3 linked regions of the Homo sapiens genome follow. The protein of the gene in region 2 purifies or fractionates together with the protein of the main gene of each other region. This does not show direct contact. Each region holds a gene or a part of one and is shown on either strand. Other genes may lie near its edges.

Region 1 (7,000 bases), on a different chromosome or scaffold from region 2:
GTGCTGCTATTGTGTGTCTTTTTCTATTTCTGGTAACAACCCTGTTAAACAAAATCAACATACTGAATTTTTTTTTTTTTTTTTTTTTTTTTTTTTTTGAGACAAAGTATTGCTCTGTCTGCCAGGCTGGAGTACAGTGGCCCGATCTTGATCTCTGCTCACTACAACCTCTGCCTCCCAGGTTCAAGGAATTCTCCTGCCTCAGCCTCCCGAGTAGCTGGGACTACAGGCGTCTGCCACCACTCCCGGCTAATTTTTGTATTTTTAGTAGAGACAGGGTTTCACCATATTGGCCAGGCTGGTGTCGAACTCCTGACCTTGTGATCCACCCGCCTTGGCCTCCCAAAGTGCTGGGATTACAGGCGTGAGCCACCGCGCCCAGCCAACATACTGAATTTTTTACTGACTTATCTATAAATTGGAGTGCATAGTGGACACATAGCCATCCAAAAGCATTCTAAGTGAACCAAGACATAATGAGCCACCTGCAACAGCTCCATTAATAAGTCCCAGATGCTATCCCGTCAGAAAAGGGCCACTCCTCTTACTAAATGGGGAATTTATACTGAAAAAAAAAAAAAAGCCACTTCTCATACACACACACATAGCTGTTAAATCAGAATGAAAGGCTTATTTCCCCTATCTCCCTTTGGTTCATTACTCCTAAAAGGGTAAGGGGTGTCAGGCACTTAATCATCATTGCATCACTGTGGTGTGATGTACTCAATGTTTAGAGAAAAACTGTTTAATTGGTTCGATTTGGCACAGCATTTACATGACCAGGTCACAGTCTCATTCAGAAGAATCTGGTATTAATTATACATTTTAAACTATGGCCGGGTGTAGTGGCTCATGCCTGTAATCCCAGCATTTTAGGAGGCCGAGGCGGGTGGATCACCTGAGGTCGGGAGTTCGAGACCAGCCTGACCAACATGGAGAAACCCCATCTCTACTAAAAATACAAAAAATTAGCCAGGCGTGGTGGCGCAGGCCTTAATCCCAGCTACTTGGGAGGCTGAGGCAGGAGAATTGCTTGAACCCAGGAGGCAGAGGTTGTGGTGAGCTAAGATCACGCCATTACACTCCAGCCTGGGTGACAAGAGTGAAACTCCGTCTCAAAAAAAAAATTTTTTTTAAACTAAAACAAGCTCAATATCTAGACCTAAATACATTAAGTTTGACACACACACACAGAATCACACACAGTCACATTTGCTTTCCATTCTTTCCTTCTCCAGGGGAAACAATCCAAAACAGAACATTTAAGAAATCTCAGGCCGGTCGCGGTGGCTCATGCCTGTAATCCCAGTACTTTGGGAGGCCGAGGCGGGTGGATTACCTGAGGTCAGGAGTTTGAGACCAGCCTGGCCAACATGGTGAAACCCTGTCTCTACTAAAAATACAAAAAATCAGCCAGGCCTGGTGGCACATGCCTGTAATCCCAGCTACTCGGGAGGCTGAGGCAGGAGAATTGCTTGAGCCCAGGAGACGGAGGTTGCAGTGAGCCGAGATCATGCCACTGCAGTGCAGCCTGGCCGACAGAGAGACTCTGTCTCAAAAAAAAAAAAAAGAAAAAAGAAATCTCAGGGGCCAAGCACTTTGGGAGCCCAAGGTGGGCAGATCACGTGAGGTCAGGAGTTTGAGACCAGCCTGGCCAACATAGTGAAATCCCTGTCTCTACTAAAACTACAAGAATTACCTGAGTGTGGTGGTAAACACCTGTAATCCCAGCTACTCGGGAGGCTGAGGCATAAGAATCATTTGGGAGGTGGAGGTTGCAGGGAGCCGAGGTTGCGCCATTGCCCTCCAGCCTGCATGACAGAGTGAGACTCTTATCTCAAAAAAAAAAAAAAATCTCAGGCCAGGTGCCGTGCCTCACACCTGTAATCCCAGCACTTTGGGAGACCGAGGCAAGTGGGTTGCCTGAGCTCAGGAGTTCAAGACCAGCCTGGGCAAGATGGCAAAACCCCGTCTCTACTAAAAAATACAAAAAATTAGCTGGGTGTGGTGGTGCCCGCCTGTAATCCCAGCTACTCAGGAGGCTAAGGCATGAGAATTGCTTGAACCCGGGAGGCAGAGGTTGCAGTCAGCTGAGATTGCGCCAGTGCACTCCAGTCTAGGTGACACAGCAAGATTCTATCTCAAAAAAAAAAAAAAAAAAAAAAAAAAAAGGAGGCCGGGCACGGTGGCTCATGCCTATAATCCCAGCACTTTGGGAGGCCAAGGCGGGCAGATCACAAGGTCAGGAGTTTGAGACCAGCCTGACCAACATGGTGAAACCCTGTCTCTACTAAAAATACATAAATTGGCCTAGTGTGGTGGCACGCTCCTGTAATCCCAGCTACTCAGGAGGTTGAGGCGGGAGAATTGCTTCAACCTGGGAGGCAGAGGTTGCAGTGAGCCAAGATCACGCCACTGCACCAGCCTGGGAGACAGAGCGAGACTCTGTCTCCAAAAAAAAAAAGAAGCCATGTGCAATGGCTCACGCCTATAATCCCCACACTTTGGGAGGCCGAGGTGGATGGATCCCTTGCAGTCAGGAGTTCAAGACCAACCTGGCCAACGTGGTGAAACCCTGTCTCTACTAAAAATGCAAAAAAATTAGCCGGGCGTGGTGGTGTACATCTGTAATCCCAGCTACTCAGCAGGCTGAGGCAGAAGAATTGCTTGAGCCCAGGAGGGTGAGGTTGCAATGAACCGAGATCACGCCACTGCACCCCAGCCTGGGTGACAGAAGGAGATTCCATCTCAAAACAAACAAAAAAAAGAATCTCTAAATCTCTCTTTTTAAAATTGTTTAGACATTGCTCTGTCACCCAGGCTAGAGTGCAGTGGCATGATCATAGCTCACTGCAGCCTTGAACTCCTGGACGCAAGTGATCCTCCCACCCCAGCCTCCTGAGTAGCTGGGACTATAGGCACACACCACCATGCCCAGATACATTTTTTATTTTTATAGAAATGAGATCTTGCCATGTTACCCAGGCTGTTCTCTAGCGCCTGGCCTCAAGTGATCCTCCTGCCTCCTGCCTTAGCCTCCCAGAGTGCTGGGATTGTAAGCATGACCCACCACACCTGGGGCATTTGCCAGTCTTGATGACCAAAATTGTTTGTATCCTGTCAATTCAGAGGTGTCCTTTGAATTGTATCTTTGATAGCGTTGACTGTGACTTTTGCTGAGTATAGCCTTTAACTTTGATGAACATAATCTTTATCTTCATCCCAAATGCCAACCAAACCATGTCACGGCTCCTGAAAGGCCTCTCTGCCTTTGCTCCTTTGGTTGGTCCTTCTTGCCCAGTTCAGTCCTTCTGCCTCTTCCTCCCTGCCTGTCCAGTTTTACCAATTCTTTTTTTTTTTTTTTTTTTTTTTTTTGAGACAGTGTCTCGCTCTTGTCACCCAGGCTGGAGTGCAGTGGCGTGATTTCATCTCACTGCAACCTCTGCCTCCCAGGTGCAAGCAGTTATCCTGCCTCAGCCTCCCAAGTAGCTGGGATTACAGGCATGTGCCACCATGGCTGGCTAATTTTTGTATTTTTAGTAGAGACGGGGTTTCGCCATGTTGGCCAGGCTAGTCTCTAACTCCTGACCTCAAGTGATCCGCCCACCTCGACCTCCCAAAGTGCTGGGATTACAGGTGTGAGCCACCGTACCCGGCCAGTATTACCAATTCTTTAGGGCCTATCTGAAGGCCCATCTCCTCCAGGAAACCTTTTCTTGACTTTGGCCTCATTCACTTTGGTGTTTGCTCATGTTCTGTACATTCTGCCTTACACAATTGGGGATTTCCTGTCTATGCCAATGAGTTTACAAAGTCCTTGAGAGCAGGGACTGTGCCTCTTACTTCTCTAGTGCCTTGCACAGCCTACACACACTTGCCAGTATGAGTGTTCAGTGGGTACTCGAGGAATTAAATCGAACAGATGTCAAGGAGTGTTATGGTCATTTCTGCCTCATCTCAGTGACCAAAACAAAACACACTTCTTTTTTTTTTTTTTTTGAGACAGTCTTGCTCTGTCGCCCAGGGTGGAGTGCAGTGGTGCAATCTTGGCTCACTGCAACGTCCGCCTCCCGGGTGCAAGCAATTCTCCTGCCTCAGCCTCCTGAGTAGCTGGGATTACAGGCACCCGCCACCACACCCAGCTAATTTTTATATTTTTAGTAGAGACGGGGTTTCACCATGTTGGTCAGGCTGGTCTCAAACCCCTGACTTTGCGATCCGCCTGCCTCGGCCTCCCAAAGTGCTGGGATTACAGGCGTGAGCCACCACGCCTAGCACAAAACACACTTTAGAAGTTTCCATACAGGTTAGGTATCACACATTCTCAAGAAAATATTTTTCCTATTTTGAAGTCAGAAGATTCCCTTTTCACTTGATAACTGACATAGCAACTTTACAACTAATGTTTTTTGCTTTTCTTCAACAGGCTGCATGTTAAATGGCCAAGAGGTGAGGCTTACTATTCACTATGAAAATGGGTTCACCATCTCAAGGGAAAATGGAGGCTCCAGCAGCATATTGTACCGCTACCCCTTTGAAAGGCTGAAGATGTCTGCTGATGATGGCATCCGAAATCTATACTTGGATTTTGGTGGTCCCGAGGGAGAACTGGTAAGAGTGTTTCTGAAACACATGTTTATCTAATAGATGTTCTCTTTCCTTCTCATTACTTCTTACCCCTTATATACAAAGTCATGGACTGACATTCCATTTAGAACCATGAAATTTTAAATTAAAAAAAATTTTTTTAAAGATGGGGTCTCTGTCACCCAGGCTGGAGTGTAGTGGTGCAATCATAGCTTCCTGCAGCCTATACCTTCTGGGCTCAAGTGATCCTCCCACCTCAGCCTCCTGAGTAACTGGGACTGGACTATAGGTGTGTGCCACCATGCCTGGCCAATTTTTTATATTCTTTATAGAGATGAGGTCTCGCTTTGCTGCCCAGGATGGTCTTGAACTCCTGGCTTCAAGTGATCTTCCCATCTTGGCCTCCCAAGGTGTTGAGATTACAGGTGTGAGCCACTGTATCTGCTCTTCTTCAGTTTTCAAGATGGCATTGGGTGTTGGTTTTTGTTGCCGTCATTTTTCTTTTTTTTTTCTTTTTTGAGACGGAGTCTCGCTTTGTCGCCCAGGCTGGAGTGCAGTGGCACCATCTCAGCTCACTGCAACCTCTGCCTCCCTGGTTCAAGCAATTCTGCTGCCTCAGCCTCCCGAGTAGCTGAGATTACATGCACGTGCCACCATGCCTGGCTAATTTTTCGTATTTTTAGTAGAGATGGGGTTTCACCGTGTTAGCCAGGATGGTCCCAATCTCCTGACCTCATGATCTGCCCGCCTCAGCCTCCCAAAGTGCTGGGATTATGGGCGTGAGCCACCGTGCCTGGCCTTAGATTTTAAATCCTCTACTATTTAGTTCTTCCTACCAGGCATGGTGAAACCCAGTACACCACCAGTTGTCTCCTAATTGGGGATGTGAAACCTCACACCAGTATTATGACATGGAATAACCTTACTCCATAGTGCACTTTTGCCTGTGGCTTTAAGTTCCTAAGAGTTTCCATAGCTCTGGCACATTCTTTACCTACCTTAAATTTATTTTGCATCTTCGTTTATTAAGTTGTCTGTATATGGTAGTGAGGTAGTGATGCTTAGTGTCCTTTCTCCACAGACCATGGACCTGCACTCTTGTCCGAAGCCGATTGTATTTGTGTTGCACACGTTTTTATCGGCCAAAGTCACTCGTATGGGACTGCTTGTATGAGCAACAAAAAATCAGAAAAGAGCCTTGACTGTCACAAGAAATATTTCCACCTCAAAAAAAAAAAAGCACAAAAAGAAACTCTTTGCTCTCCTTCAGCACAGTGCCTTCCCAAGGACCTGCAAATAACTGCTGAACCATAACCGTGTTTAAAGAAGAGCCTACCTTTCACAGTCTACCTTGGCCAGATATTCTAGCACTCTAAAAGGCTCCAAAATGAAGCTGTTGATTTATTCTCATTTCAAAATATGGTTTATGAGTAATTAGGTTTATTTCTACTGCTAAAAAGAATGGCTCATTGTTTTCTTTTTTTTTCATTGTTTTCATTTTTAGACATAATCAAATACCCAAGCATTGTTTTCTTTTTCTTCTCCCTGTAGGATTTGTGTTGTGCTTAGCCTTGATCTCTTGTTCAGAACAATTGTCCCTTCCCAGGTGCTAGCTTGCAGCAGCCTGTTGCTTCCTGAGCATTCCAGATAGGTCGTATGTCTTGGAATTTACTGTCCTCACTAGCTCCTTCCACCATAGGAAGTCCTTGAATTGTATCACCAAAGGGTTGTTCCATTTGCCCTGGATCTCCCTCTATCTCAGCCTGGCCATCACTTCCCACCTTATCCCAAGCTTTGCCACTGTCTCTAGGACTTAGAACTTGTAAATTTGATTTGCCTTGCCTTCTACTTCCTTTCTAGTGGTGACTGAGTTGAAAAGCAAGTTGGAAGCCACTGCTTTTAAAGAAAAGTTTTGCTTGGTTTAGGTTTTTCCAATTTTATTTTTGTTAGGAGCCAGGGGATAAGATTTATTTTAAATGAAAATCCTCTTCCTAGGTTAAGCCATTTTTTTTATTGCTTACCAAATGTGCCTTTGGTTAGGGTTAGTGGAGCTTTATTAGTCACTATTTGAATAACTGGAAATCACTGCCATTTCCAGGAGATCACCTATCCTAGTTTTGAGGAATAGTCATTGAGGTGGGTTTCCTTAATGGCATCTCTTCTAGTAGGCAGATCTGTTTGAACAAGATAAATCCTAAAGAGCCAGCCTGCTTGAGGAGTAGACTTGGTGGGTGAAGCCAGCAATTCCGCACAAACGTCATGTTGAATTGTTTTGGGCTGCCCAAAAACAACAGGATGCAGCATCCTGGCTGTGGCCTGGCCCTTTGTGGCAGCAGTGGCATGGACAAGCAACTGCTAATTCGAGACTTACTATTGGCTTCACAGCACACCCTACAGTGAGCAGGGTGATGAG
Region 2 (7,351 bases):
ACTGGCTTCTTTCACCGGGAGACCCCGCCCCTGGGCACACAGCTCCCCCAAGCCAGCTCCAGGGCCCTGGGATCCTCCTCCCCCTGTCCTGAAGGAAGAGGACCAGGGGACCTCTTCAGAGACAGGGCTGTCTCAGGTCCCCAGTGGACAGTGGGTGCTATCCACAGCTTATACCTGGAAAGGCCCAGTTTTTCCAGGGCCCAGGACAAGACCCGCCCAGGCATTTTGAGGACCCTTCCCCAGAGGGAAGGCACAGCCCATCCGGCTGCCCAGTCTCTGAAATCCTGCTCCCCCACTCCCCACCCACCCCACCCTTCCTCCTCCTCATTCTCCTCCTCTTCCCCACCCCCATCCTCTCGCCAGCTGCAGTCTGGGCACAGCACCAAGACAAACGCTGTCTTGCTGTCCACCCGCCTGGGCTGGCCAGCCCTCCAGAAGGCGGAGTAGGGTGGTTCTTAAAGGGCCCAGTACAGCACCCCTCCCACCCAGGAGGGGTTCCCCAGTGGTGAGAGGGGTGGAGGTGGAGGGTTGATGCCAGTGTGGTTGCAGAAGCCTGTTTGGGAGGAGGAAGGGACTCCAGACCCTCTCCCCCTATCAGGTAGAATCAGATACCCACCTTTGCTTCACATTTTCTGTGCGTCGCCACCTTGCAGACTAGGGAAGGTAAGGGGAGGAGAGGGGTTAGCAGGGGCCTGTGGGACAGTGGAAGGAATGGCCTTCCCTCATCTCCCAGACCCTGGAACCAGACCCTGGGACTTCCAAGATCCCACCTGGACTGGGCTGGCTGGGGCAGAGGAGCAGGGCTAGGTTTTGAGGGAAGAGTGTGGCAGTGGGGTACTACTGCCCAGGCCAGGGGTAACGTTCCAGGGTGGGTGGAGGTGAGGAGGAAGAGAGGGAAGGAAGACTACCGTCACAAGTCAGGATGGGAAGGTGATGGAGAGTACTGGCTCTCCTGGGTTATGGGAGGTGTCTGTCATGGGGAGCCAGGGCCATCTGAAGGGGGAGGCAGCTGCTTCTTAGCTGCCATTGTGCCTAATCCAGGAGCAGCATATTACATTTGAGATTGTGTGAGCTGGCCTGCTGGAGTTGTGCAACACAGTGGTACTGGGTGGAGGGTCTCAGAGTCACAGGACAGAGAGCCTCACCTCTGCACGAAACGCCTGTCCCATCGATGGTCACCTTACATACTGCACAGACTGGAGGTTTCTTCCGGAAAACCTTCTCCCGGAAGCTATGAGGCTCAGCTTTCCTAGGCTGAAGGTGGAGGGACAAACAGAGGTGTGAGTTCCCAGTGGGCCCATCTCCATCTCCGGGACTGGGCAGGAGCCTTGCCTTAGCACTGCACTGGTTTTCTCCGTCCAGATCAAGCCCTCAAACTTGTAGGACGCACTTGGCCACAGCTGCTTCAGGGCGGTCATGGGGCCTGTCCTCAACTGTGCATGGAATCTGACCCCTTGCGTCACCTTTGCTGGGTCAGCTCCTCCCCAGGGGATCACTTGGGCCCCTCACATGGCCCTGGTGTGTGATGCCCTTGTGGAAAAGCCTCCATGCTCAGGCTTTCCCCCTGGTGTGGTAAGGGTACTCCCTGACTCTTCCCATCTTGTCCTCCCCGCATGGAGACCTGTGTGCAGAGTGAGCAGGGAGGTTCCAAACATATGTGTTGTATGTCAGTCCTGCAGCACCAGACTGAGCCGGCAGGAGTGGCCTCAGCCAGTCCTGCTCCTTTAGCTCCTGCTGTCCCCACGCTCCAGGCAGCTGACATGCCCTCCTCCCCCACGGTCAGAACAACATGTTTACTCATTGTGCACTGAGGCAGCAGACAGCAATTGTGTAATGGGGGTGGTCATGCTGGAGGGAAACAGATAGAAGCCTGTCACTGGGGAGAGATGTTTAGCTGGCTTTGGATGCTGTGAGTTCTCCCCCGACCCCCTGCACCCTGGCACTTGGGATTCACGCATTGAATGAGAAAGGAGTGGACCAGATTCCCTGTTCAGCCCCTCCTGACCCAGAGATGCAGTGAGGCAGGAGCCTGGGATGCCCCCTTATGGCCCAGGCCTATCTCAGTCCCTTCCCCTCCCACTGTGGGTTCTCTCCTCCCATCCTCTGTCTGGGGACAGCTTGTCTCCTTGCCATCTCTCTGTTTTACCCATATTCCCCCTCCTCTGGAGTTCAGACTCCTGCTGTCCTCCTCCCGGGGACCCATCACAGTAGTATCTCAGGTTGTCCTGAGCTGCTGCTTTTGGGGCAAGGCTGGGAAGTTGGGAAAGGGAGTGATGGGGATGTGGGCAGCACCTCTGGTTTCTTGACTGTCCCTGCAACTCTTCTGGGCTGGATCAACTTTGTGGGACCCACTAAGACACTTGGGAGCATGTTGGCATTAGCAGCAGATATGGATGTTGTCAGTGGAAAGCAAACCTCCAGTTCCAAAGCACTCCTGACTCCCTCTCCTCTCTCTTTTTCCACCCTGCCACCCCATTTCCCTCAAACTTCCCTGGGCCAGGGAAGGGGCCTGATGATCTCTGAGCCTGCTGGAGGATACCTGGATAGCGCATGGCAAAGTCCTGCAGTGAGGCACCTGGGGCTTATGTTGGGGGGCCAGGACCTCCTGGGGTTGGCCCAGGCTAGAGCAGGGAAGGTGAGAGGAGCCAAAACAGACAGCAGGACCTACTCTAACCCAAACATCCCCTCACACTACAGCCCTGGCCACTCCGGAGGGGATGCTGGGCCAGGGAAGAAGGCTGAGGAAGCTGAAATTGGGAAGAAGGCCTGGCCTGATTCCTGGTCCCCTCCCCCACTGCCCGCACCTCCACCCCTGCCCCTCTTTTGCCCAGCTGGTGGGCACTCCTACCCTGCTTGCGGCCCGGCTGCTGTCCCTCCTCCCCAGGGCTCTGAGCAGCCTCTCCACAGGGCCGCTGGACTTCATGGTGTTCGGCTGGCTGGGGTGCTGGCCCCAGGGCCTGAACAATGCTGGGGCCTGGCCCGGGGCTTCCTGGAAGCGGCCTGGCGGAGGCAGCCGCTTCCCCTGGGCGGAGGGTAGGCTGTCTGGCTGGTGTGAGGAGAAGCCCGGCCCTGGAAGTGGAGGGAAGTGCAGGCGGGAAGGGGGCAGGTCGCTGCTCCAGGAAGTGGAGGGGGGAGGATGTGGGGGAGGCCAGGAGATCAGATTCCCAGGATCTACCCTGCTGGGAGTGTCAGCCTGTGATCTTTTGCTCCCCCTACTCCCCCAACTCTGGAGTTGTCCCACACCTGGGACACCACACTCTCCAGGGATCTGCAGGGATCCATGGTCTTGAGATTCTGCCCCCACCCCCGGTGGGGCCGGGTGAGAATTCTGGTCTCGGGGCAGGGCTAAAGGGCAAGTGGGGAACAGTGTGTCCCAGCCAGGCTCCAGCCTGAACTCTCAAGCTCTCGAGGGACTTCCGCTGGGGAGGGAGTGGAGCTGGGAACTACTACCAGCAGGCAGGCCCAGGATCCCGAGTGTGTCCTGAGAGTCAGGTAAAAATGGGACTGGGGGCCCCCTTCCTGTCTCAGTTTCACTCGTTATGAAGTAGGAAAAGGAAAGCATGCACCGCCCACCTTTACCCTCAATACACCTTGCAAGGCCAAGTTCCAGCCACAAGACTGCTTTGCTCAGGTTTGGGGAGTAATCCATTCTCCTGCCACAGCCTAAGGCATATGAGGCCCTTCTCCTGAAAGCCCCCAGGTTTCTGCTCCTGACACAGTGCCCCCCACTCACCCATTCCCTGGCTTTGTTTCAGACATGATCTCACAGATCCCTAGCCCTCTTTCCAGCCCTGCAACTTGGGCTCTCTACCCAAGGGCTGCACCCTCCCCCCGCGGCAACCCCGAAGCCTGAGTACTACCTTCATGGCTCTCCTGGGTCTGCTCTCCTTCCTCAGCAGCTGTCCCAGGGCCTGAGGACTGGACAGGAGGTCCCCCCTCCCAACACATACTCCACCCCCATCCATGGGCCTCCGGCCTCCCTCCTGGGAACATGGCCAACTTCCCGTCCTGGGAGTCAAGGGAGGGAGGTGGATGGGGCCTTGAAAAAGGGGGAGTAATCTTCCTAAAAGCTAAGGGGTTAATGGCCTGGGAGTCTTCAGCCCCAAGCTGTGGACAGCAGCCCCTGGGACAGGCTATAGCTGTCACTTGAAAGAATGTGCAAATGTGCCCCTCTCATTTGCATGGTATTTATTGAATGTCCCAGTACTCAGGCAACTCCCCCAGCCCTGGCTTCTCCCACGGAGTCCCTTCTACTTGCTTCCTGCTCCTTCATATCCACCAGGATGGGTTCCCTGGGATGAAGAATCCTGCATTCTCTGGGGTGAGGCCTGCTGTGGGTGCCCACTTGAGACCCTTGCGAGGACCTGACTGGATTGGGCCTAGCCTGACACCTCTCCCTGGAAGCTCCAATTTTCCAGGCCAAGAAATGTGTCCCCAGGATATCCTGGCCAGAAGGTGGCATCTGTGTGGCAGGCCTGGGCTCCCTGCCTGTAACTGGAGAGGAGCACGGGCTCTGTGACCCACCCCCATCCTGCCAGCCTGGCTGTGTCCCAGCACATTCCAGGCCCCCGGCCAGTGTGGGCAACCGGGCCTGGCCTTGTCGAGCCCCCAGCCCTGCTTGGGGGAGATGGGGCAGTGTGACAAGGTGGGCAGTGGGGGTGGCTTTTTTCTGTCCAGTCCCAGCTTCTGCTCCTATGGCACATGGCCCTGACCAGGACTCCTCTACATGCTTCACTCTCCTGCTGCCTCCATAGGGGCTGAAAGTCCCCTCACCTGGAACAGGTCCCCAGACATCCTCTCACCTTCACTGGTCTCACACTCCCCACCCAGACCCAGCAAGGAGGTGCCCAAGCAGTGAGCTCGGTGAGGGGTGGGGTGGTCAGGATCCACTGTGGCTGTGAGTCCCTCCCATCCTGTGGCACTCGCACCTCGGAAGGGAAGCAGGGATGGGATCCCTATGAGCCAGTCCCGAGGGGAAAAGTAGCTCACTTGAGGAGGGCTGGGAAGGCATCACTAGACCCTCTTGGACCCTCACCCTCCTCCCGCCTGTAACATTCCAGAGCCTGTCAACCTCTCCCCCAGCCGGGCCCCCTCTCTCTCCGAAGTCTTGGGTTTGTTTGGAGAAACCCCTCCACCCACACCCCCCTTTCTGGAAATAGCTGTGGTTGGAAGGGAGGCTGGGAGCCCGGCCGCCGCGGAGGAGGGGTAAGGCCCAGGGAAGGAGCGAGGGAGGGCGGCGGCTCTGGGGGTGTTCCCAGAAGGGTCTGGAGGATGGGGGCAGACTGGAGGGGGCCGCAGAGCGGGGCTGGCGAGTCGAATCAGCCTCATCTGTGCCCGCTTACGGCCTCTGTCCCACATGTGAAGCAGGAAAGGAAAACGTTCGCCCGCACCCTGCCAGGCCGGGGCCCGAGCGCCGCTGCCAGCTGCTGCCGGGTCCCGGGCCTGCGTGTGTGGCACGGCGTGCGGCCCCGTGCGCCCCGGGTGCTGGAAGGCGTGGCGGCCTGATCGAGTAGGGCCGCGGCCGCGCCCCGCCCCCTAGTCACTGTCCCGGCCTCCCGCTGCTCCCAGCTCTCCGCGGCCAGCCAGAGCCCCCGGCCCCAGCCCTGGGCCGCGCCCCGCGCCCCGCGCCCTCTCGACCTCCGGCGGCCCCGCGCCCCCTGGCGCCCGCCCCTGGCACTGCCCGCGCGGCCGTGACGCAGAGACCGCCGCCCGCCCAGCGCGGCGCGGCCACTCACCTGCGGGGGGCGCCCGGCCGGGCGGGGGCGCGGCGGGGCGGGGCAGCAGCAGGGGGAGCCGCCGGGCCAGCCCATCCCGCCCGTGCCCGCGCCGAGCGGACGCGGAGGAGGAGGCGGTGGCAGTGGCGGGAGCGGGCGGCCGGGCTCGGCTGGGCTCCCTCCCGCCCCCGCCGCGCCCCGCGCCCGCGCCCGCGCCCGTGGCAGCCCGCTCCTCCTCCTCCTCCCTCCCGGCTCCAATCCCCACGTTCCGCCAGCTCCCCACCCCTCGGCCTCCTCTCCTCCCCACCTTCTCCCGCGAACCCACACTCACAAAGAGCCGAGGGGAGAGAGGGTGCGCAGACGGCCAGCCGGGCCGCGCCAGGGACATACTGGAGACAGGAAGTGGCTGAGAGGGGGAGAGAGTTGGAGAGAGACGGCCGCGGAGGACACGGGGACGGGAAAGTCTGAGAGACGGGGAGAGCCTGACCCGGCGGGACACAGGCAGAAAGAAACACGCGAGCCAGACAGACGCAGAAGAAACGGTGGGCGTAGGTCTAGAAGGGACTAGGAACAAGGGGACAGGGAACTGCCGCGCAGCGTCAGCCTCTTACCCTCCCCACAGGAGTGTGCCTGGGCTTGGGCCTGACCTGAGAGGACCACCCGTGGCTTAGCCTGGTGGTGCTAGCGTCCCCTACCCAGGCGGGCGCCTGAATCAGGTGAAGACACCTGGTGTTACTTTTGGCCCAAGTCATTGGACACCCTTCCCTGGTCCTCTGCCCCACAGGAGACTTCTCCTGGGCTAGTATTCTCAAAGGATTCACAGCTGGGGACCTTTCCGTCAGGCTCAAGCCCCCATCTCCACCCGCAAGCAGCTCCAGCCATCCCATCCACTGCCCTGCTTTATTCATTGAGACGGGAGTCTGTCTCTGTCGCCCAGGCTGGAGTGCAGTGGCGCCATCTCGGCTCACTGCAACCTCTGCCTCCCAGGCTCAAGCGATCCTCCCACCTCAGCCTCCCGAGTAGCTGGGACTACAAGATGGGCGCCGCCACGCCCAGCTAATTTTTTGTAGAGATGGGTTTTCGCCATGTTGCCCAGGCTGGTCTCCAATTCTTGAGCTCAAGCGATTTCCCCTTCTTGGCCTCCCAAAGTGCTGGGATTACAGACGTGAGCCACCGTGCCCGGCCCATTGCCCTATTTTAAAGAGCTGGACCGTCATTCCCAGTTCGCAGGAGACCTCTGAGAAGGTCTTCCTTACATTTAACTTGAGTCCAGCCTTTCCAAATGGAGATGGAAGTTCTTTCTATGGTCTGACCTCATTCCCTTCTTTTGCAGTGCCTGGTACTGGATAGGAACTTCATGGAATGGAGCTAATGGGCCGTAGGGCAGGTTTGAGTCGTGCCACCCTGGAGCAGAAGGTGGAGGGTAGGGATAAGGTAGGGGACATCTTCCTAGAAGTTCTGAACCTGTTGCCATTCCTACATTCCCCCAACGTCCTTTAGCAGTGAGCACTTCCTGAAACTTTCTCCCTCCTTCACCCTCCCTGCTGGATTTTCCATGATGAAAAGGGGCGGGGGGAAGGAAGGTTGGAATTCTGAGAACCCAGTGCCCAGGGCTCAATGCCCAGTGCTTGCCCAAA
Region 3 (7,000 bases), on a different chromosome or scaffold from region 2:
GAATTGGGTGGGGCCCAGGAGATTTCAATTTTCTATGAAATTATTTTTTAAAAATTTACAATTGGGAGCAATTTTTTCATTTTGTTCAAAAACCAAACTTTTTTTTTTTTTTTTTTTTTTTTTTTGAGATGGAGTTTCACTCTTGTTACCCAGGCTGGAGGGCAGTGGCGTGGCCTGGGCTTACTGTAACCTCTGCCTCCCAGGTTCAAGTGATTCTCCTGCCTCAGCCTCCCGAGTAGCTGGGATTACAGGTGCCTGCCACCATGCCCAGCTAGTTTTTGTATTTTTAGTAGAGATGGGGTTTCACCATGTTGGCCAGGCTGGTCTTGAACTCCTGACCTCATGTGATCCACCTGCCTTGGCCTCCCAAAATGCTGAGATTACAGGTGTGAACCACCGCACTTGGTCTTTAAAAAACAAACTAAATAATGTTTCTCTCCTGTTTTTCTTACTAATTATATAGTTCTATTTTTGACATTTAAATCAGATCATGGAATTTATTTTAAAGAGTGAGGCAGCCTCTTGCCCACTCTTTGCTCCCCACCCTTCACCAACTGGTCTCATATGATTTTGTTGATTATTTTATTTTATTTTATTTGAGATGGAGTCTTGCTCTGTTGCCCAGGCTGGAATGCAGTGGTGCAATCTCAGCTCACCGCAACCTCCGCCTCCCGGGTTCACGCCATTCTCCTGCCTCCTCCAGAGTAGCTGGGACTACAGGCATCCGCCACCACACCCGGCTAATATTTTTATATATATATATATATTTTTAGTAGAGACAGGGTTTCACCGTGTTAGCCAGGATGGTCTTAATCTCCTGACCTCATGATCTGCCTGCTTCAGCCTCCCAAAGTGCTGGGATTACAGGCGTGAGCCACCACGCCTGGCCGATTTTATTTTATTTTTTTGAAGTTTCAACTCCATCAGTTCTGAATTCCTAGGTATACTCACATCCAAATGAAATTATTAGCGATTAAAGAGAATGTGTAGTACTAGAGATACGATGTGTGAAATGGCTTTTTGTCTAATTTAAAATTTTTCATGCTTTAGGAGGTCTGGTCTTGTTGGATTGAACTGCTTCACTATTTGGATCTTGAAACTACCTGGTTAAACACTTTGGAAGAGCGGATGAAGAGCACAGAGGTCCTGCCTGAGAAGACGGATGCTGTCAACGAAGCCCTGGAGGTTGGAACCCGTGATCTCCACGGCATTTCTCTTTGCTGTGATGAGGCCACACGTGTATTACAATGAGGAATGTAATGCTTTACGCAGGCAAATGCATTTGCTTCCTCAGTGGTTTTCAATGTCACTTGCATTTTCTTCCATAGCCTGAAGTGTTTATACAATCATGTGTATTTAGATTATTGGTGACCCATTATATCAGCCTCAAGACGTGGTTAGCTGTTTGACATCTTACATTTTAGACATGTTGAAGCACTCTAGTGGTTTTCCAGTTTATTTTAGTAGGCCCTGGACAAAGCTCTGCCATATGTTATTAGGACAACTGCTCTCTTGTTTCATCAACAAGTTATTTTTACTCACTAAACACAGCACTGACAGTTTATAGGGGATTCCTGTCTCTTACCTTCAGATGCTAGAAGTTAAGACAGTGGTTGAGCCATGGGATCTTGTCGTAGGAGCTTGTCTTCAAGCCTGGATTTGAACTCCTTGAGGCCAAGAAATGTACCCGATGCTTTGTTATTCCTCAGTTCCCAGCACAGTGTGTAGCACATGTTAACTTAATAACCGTTTCTTAAATGAAATACAGTGCAAAGAGGGTAGGTTTGCTTAACAAAAAAGAAAAGGGAAGGGGGTAGATAGGCTTTTAAAAATGTCATGGTACCATGTGGGAACTGAGTGGACAACTGGATTAAAGGTCAGAAATGAGTAAAATGTGGCACTTACATTCCAGGAGACGGATGCTCTGCTAGAGAAAAGATGTCACTTCTCAAATATAGCAGAGTGAGAGACAGAGTGAATGAAAAATATGAAAAGCTTAATTTTTTTCCTAATGTAAGAGTGAATACGTATATATTCTTGAAATATGGAAAATAAAGAAAAGTATAAAGCAAACTCTAAGATAAACATTTTAAAACAGTTTGTAGATTTCTTCCTAATTATTATCTTTTATGTATGCATACTAGAAGGTAGTATATTGGATCAAAGGCTTTGGAGTCTTTTATTTACTTATTTATCTTTTTATTTGAGATGGAATCTTGCTATGTTGCCCAGGCTGGAGTGCAATTGCATGATTTTGGCTCACTGCAACCTCCACCTCCTGAGTTCAAGCAATTCTCATGCCTCAGCCTCCTGAGTAGCTGGGATCACAGGCGTGTGCCACTACCCCAGCTAATTTTGTATTTTTAGTAGAGATGGGGTTTTACCATGTCGGCCAGGCTGGGCTCGAACTCCTGACATCAGGTGATCCACCCGCTTCGGCCTCCCAATGTGCTAGGATTAGAGGTGTGAGCCATCGCACTTGGCCAGGCTTTGGAGTCTTAAAGCTTTAGAGCCATGTTGGAATCTTAGCTCTTCTTTTGACTGTGTGTATGTAGGCAAGTAATTTAACCTTTCTGAGCTTCAATTTTCCAATCTGTAAACTGGGAATGCTATTTAGCCCATATGGTTAATTAGATTTATGTATATAAAAAGTGTGTATATAAAACAATGCCTCTTATTCTGCATATATTGTAGGAAAATGACTACTTATTTTTAGTAATATAATTAATAAAAGTTGAGATCATTTTGCTTGTATAGTACTGTTCTCTGCCTTTGAACTTTGTGTCATGAGCATTTCCCCATATAATTAATAATTATTTTTAACTTTTTATTATTCATTTATTTATTGTTTAGAGACATAGTCTCGCTCTGTTGCCCAGGCTGGAGTCCAGTGGTATGACAGCTCACTGCAGCCTTGAACTCTTGGGCTCAAGTGATCCTCCTGCCTCACCCTCCCATAATTAATAATAGTTGAAATTATTTTTGTGAAATTATATCATATATCACTTGTGCTAATTTCTCAATTTTATGCATTTTTTAATCCCATGATGGATATTTTTGTGAATTAGTAATTTACTTAACTTTTGGTCCTGTTACTTAGGTAGATTTTTAGAAAATATAATTACTTGTTTAACAAATAGACATTTTGGGGATCCTTGATACCTTTTGCCTTAGTAAATGCATTATTATTTTTTTTTCCCATCTCCATTCCAGTCTCTGGAATCTGTTCTGCGCCACCCGGCAGATAATCGCACCCAGATTCGAGAGCTTGGCCAGACTCTGATTGATGGGGGGATCCTGGATGATATAATCAGTGAGAAACTGGAGGCTTTCAACAGCCGATATGAAGATCTAAGTCACCTGGTAAGAGTTGGGACATACATGGGTGTTGATTAGGTATTGATGAAGTGGAGCTGGCCCTAAGCTCCATATCATAGAGCTTTAATGTTGGAAAAATCTTTAATGTTGGTTAAAGTTGGTAACCAATGCTAACAGGGGCATTGAGGGTATTGAAATATTCAGAAAGGAAGAATAGATCTAACACTCTAAGACAGAACTGGATGATTAAAAAAATTATTTTTGAGATTACTTCTACTTACAAACATTTAATTTTCATTAAGGATCATATGATAGCTGTATATAAGAACAACAACTCATACTATCCTAGTAAATATTAGGGCCATGATATTTCACATAAGCTGCTGTGAAAGCCATAGTCTCTTAGTTCATATCCAGGTTGTAACATACATATTCGTATCACAAATTAGAGAAAGAACATTTCTTTTATAGGAAGGTTGGGTATGAATATTAGGTGCTTCCAAACACATATTAAATAATAACTGTTGATGTTCAGCCCATGAATAACATCAAGCTTAACCCAAAAGTGCTGTAAATAGTAGTTTGATATGTATGTACACCTATAGAATTTGTTTTAGGCTTTGGAAAAAAAGAGACTCTGATGTTTGTGTATTGATAGACATTTTTCTTATGTTTTATATTCTTAATTGGCAGACATTGCTGATTCCTAAAAATGCTTTAAAATTATAATAAATAACACATTTTTATCTTCTGTTTAATGCATCTTATGGGAAACCTTTACATTTTTGTATTTCAACATTATATATAGAAAGAAGTAATAATTAGTAATTCAGCTGCATGGTACATAAGATCCTAGTGGGACATTTTCACTGTTATCATTAGTAATTATTATTTATTTATAAAGAAAGCTAAAGTCTTGGATGAAAGCTTTTATGGTCTTTTCTTAGTGGCCAGAATATATATATTCTGCTATTTATATTTGTGTTGGGCAACTAATGATTCAATTTCTCCTTTGTGCAGGCAGAGAGCAAGCAGATTTCTTTGGAAAAGCAACTCCAGGTGCTGCGGGAAACTGACCAGATGCTTCAAGTCTTGCAAGAGAGCTTGGGGGAGCTGGACAAACAGCTCACCACATACCTGACTGACAGGATAGATGCTTTCCAAGTTCCACAGGAAGCTCAGGTATTGCCGTGCATTTGAGGGCTTTTGAGCTGTAAAGAGAGCTTTTGTAATTGCCTCCTCAACTATAAGAGAACCCCTCCTGCTCTCCAAAACCGAGAGTCAATGGGAAAGATTGACCTTACTTACAGGGCAGCATTTGGGTTTTGGAGTTCTCTTGCTTTCTATGTGAGACTCTGGCAAAAGTCTTATATAGTTTATTTTATTTTATTTTATTTTATTTTATTTATTTATTTGAGACAGAATCCCACTATGTCACCCAGGCTGGAGTGCAGTGGCACGATCTTGGCTCACTGCAACCTCCGCCTCCTGGGTTCAAGTGACTCTCCTGCCTCAGCCTCCCGAATAACTGGGACTACAAGCACGCGCCACCACGCCCGGCTAATTTTTTGTAGTTTTAGTAGAGACGGGGTTTCGCCATGTTGGCCAGGCTGGTCTTGAACTCCTGACTTCAAGTGATCTGCCTGCCTCGGCCTCCCAATAATTTTTGTATTTTTAGTAGAGACGGGGTTTTGCCATATTGTCCAGGCTAGTCTCAAACTCCTGACTTCAGGTGATCCACCTTCCTCGGCCTCCCAAAATGCTGGGATTACAGGCGTGAGCCACTGTGCCTGGCTGAAAAGTCCTGTATATTTTAAATTGTAGTTTTCTTAGCTGTGAAGTTGGGACAATTCCTTCCTTATAAATAAGTTGTGAACATTAGAAACGACAAATGCAAAGCCCTTAGCAGGTGCGTCATGTACAATAGTCATACCATGCAGTGGGCCATATTATTATTATTATACAAAAACGTATTATTATTATTTTTTAGACGGATTCTCACTCTGTTGCCCAGGCTAGAGTGCAGTGGCGCGATCTCGGCTCACTGCAAACTCTGCCCCACAGGTTCAAGCAATTCTCCTGCCTCAGCCTCCCGAGTAGCTGGGATTATAGGCGCCCGCCACCGTGCCCAGCTAATTTTTGTATTTTTAGTAGAGATGGGGTTTCACCATCTTGGCCAGGCTGGTCTTGAACTCCTGATGTCGTGATCCACCCGCCTCGGCCTCCCAAAGTGTTGGGATTACAGGCATAAGCCACCGCACCTGGCCTACAAAAACTTATTAAAGCTTCTGTGGAGGTCAACATTATGTAAAATACGATATCATGTATTACACAACGATATAGAACTTTTGTATTGTCTCTTTTTATACTTAAGTAAAAAAAAAAGGACATCCTCTCCCCTTTCCAATCTCTTTTTAGAAAATCCAAGCAGAGATCTCAGCCCATGAGCTAACCCTAGAGGAGTTGAGAAGAAATATGCGTTCTCAGCCCCTGACCTCCCCAGAGAGTAGGACTGCCAGAGGAGGAAGTCAGATGGATGTGCTACAGGTAAAGAAGGCCAGGAGCTTCCTTTTACTTTTCAACTTGTTGGGAATTTTCTTCAAAAAAGAGAAAGAATTGATTACTTGGGCACCGTTTGTATTCTTTGTGATGTAAACCATGGGATGGGAGTGATGATGTGTTGAAGGTTGCATCCTAGGGCAGCAGAAACAAATTGTTGCATGTGTGGAAAAATATGAAATCTGATTTTGATAGCTGAGATGAGAAACAAGAGAGTGAGCCAGATTTAGAAGTTAGCTTTATATACACTTTTTCTTTAATGCAGAGCCTCTGTCAGTATCGTGTGGCTGATGCTGTGGGCAGGCCGAGCATGAATTGGATGCAGCATCATTTAGTTCTTTCATGGTTGATATGACATTGACTTTCACTCTGAACTTGTGATGAAGGGCATTTTGAGTTCTAGGTTCCTGAACTATCTTTTTGAACATGAAGTTTTAATTCCAGTGAGGTCAGCTTTATCTAAATTTCTTATCCAAATCTATTACTTCTGAGATTGAGACACTGAGTGTTGTAATTTTTGACACTGGGCTATGCAGTTCACTTAGGTGATCGGGTACCCTCACTGAGATTCATTAGGAGTTTTTTATTTTGGGTCATATTTCTGAATTTTTTTCTTTTGGTACTTTATGGTACAAATTTTTAGTAGTATCTGTTATGCTCATGATGAGAGAGATAATCATCCTGATGGGAATTGCATATTTTCATTTCTGCAAACAGAGGAAACTCCGAGAGGTGTCCACAAAGTTCCAGCTTTTCCAGAAGCCAGCTAACTTCGAGCAGCGCATGCTGGACTGCAAGCGTGTGCTGGATGGCGTGAAAGCAGAACTTCACGTTCTGGATGTGAAGGACGTAGACCCTGACGTCATACAGACGCACCTGGACAAGTGTATGGTGAGGCTTTTGGGTGATTGGCACATCCAGTGGCTTTTTCAGCAGCTGTTATGGCTTGGTCTAGCAAGTACATGCCTAGTGTGTCCAGTGATCACTAGTCTACAGTGTGCTAAACATAAGGATTGATGATGGAAAACGTGTTAAAAAATAAGAAGTGTGGTCTTTCCCTCCAAAGAAATTAGAAGAGATAAGAGAGATAGCTAAGGAAACTAGAATAGACATGTATATAACA

Evidence for each region. Proteins that work in one complex are often made in the same cells at the same time.
Region 1: the proteins of TNS2 (region 2) and SNTB2 purify together in Homo sapiens (affinity purification with mass spectrometry; 4 studies listed by BioGRID and IntAct, with this or other methods). This does not show direct contact.
Region 3: the proteins of TNS2 (region 2) and UTRN purify together in Homo sapiens (affinity purification with mass spectrometry; 4 studies listed by BioGRID and IntAct, with this or other methods). This does not show direct contact.

The regions. Positions count from the first base shown.
Region 1 is NC_000016.10:69,295,164-69,302,163, forward strand, and holds part of SNTB2 (beta-2-syntrophin), read left to right. Parts: intron 1-4,426; coding exon 4,427-4,611; intron 4,612-5,668; coding exon 5,669-5,761; 3' UTR 5,762-7,000. UniProt on the Homo sapiens protein: Adapter protein that binds to and probably organizes the subcellular localization of a variety of membrane proteins. May link various receptors to the actin cytoskeleton and the dystrophin glycoprotein complex.
Region 2 is NC_000012.12:53,045,758-53,053,108, reverse strand, and holds the start of TNS2 (tensin-2), read right to left. Parts: upstream 3,045-7,351; 5' UTR 2,924-3,044; coding exon 2,849-2,923; intron 1,255-2,848; coding exon 1,146-1,254; intron 655-1,145; coding exon 617-654; intron 1-616. UniProt on the Homo sapiens protein: Tyrosine-protein phosphatase which regulates cell motility, proliferation and muscle-response to insulin. Phosphatase activity is mediated by binding to phosphatidylinositol-3,4,5-triphosphate (PtdIns(3,4,5)P3) via the SH2 domain.
Region 3 is NC_000006.12:144,484,335-144,491,334, forward strand, and holds part of UTRN (utrophin), read left to right. Parts: intron 1-1,050; coding exon 1,051-1,185; intron 1,186-3,213; coding exon 3,214-3,363; intron 3,364-4,338; coding exon 4,339-4,500; intron 4,501-5,736; coding exon 5,737-5,865; intron 5,866-6,594; coding exon 6,595-6,768; intron 6,769-7,000.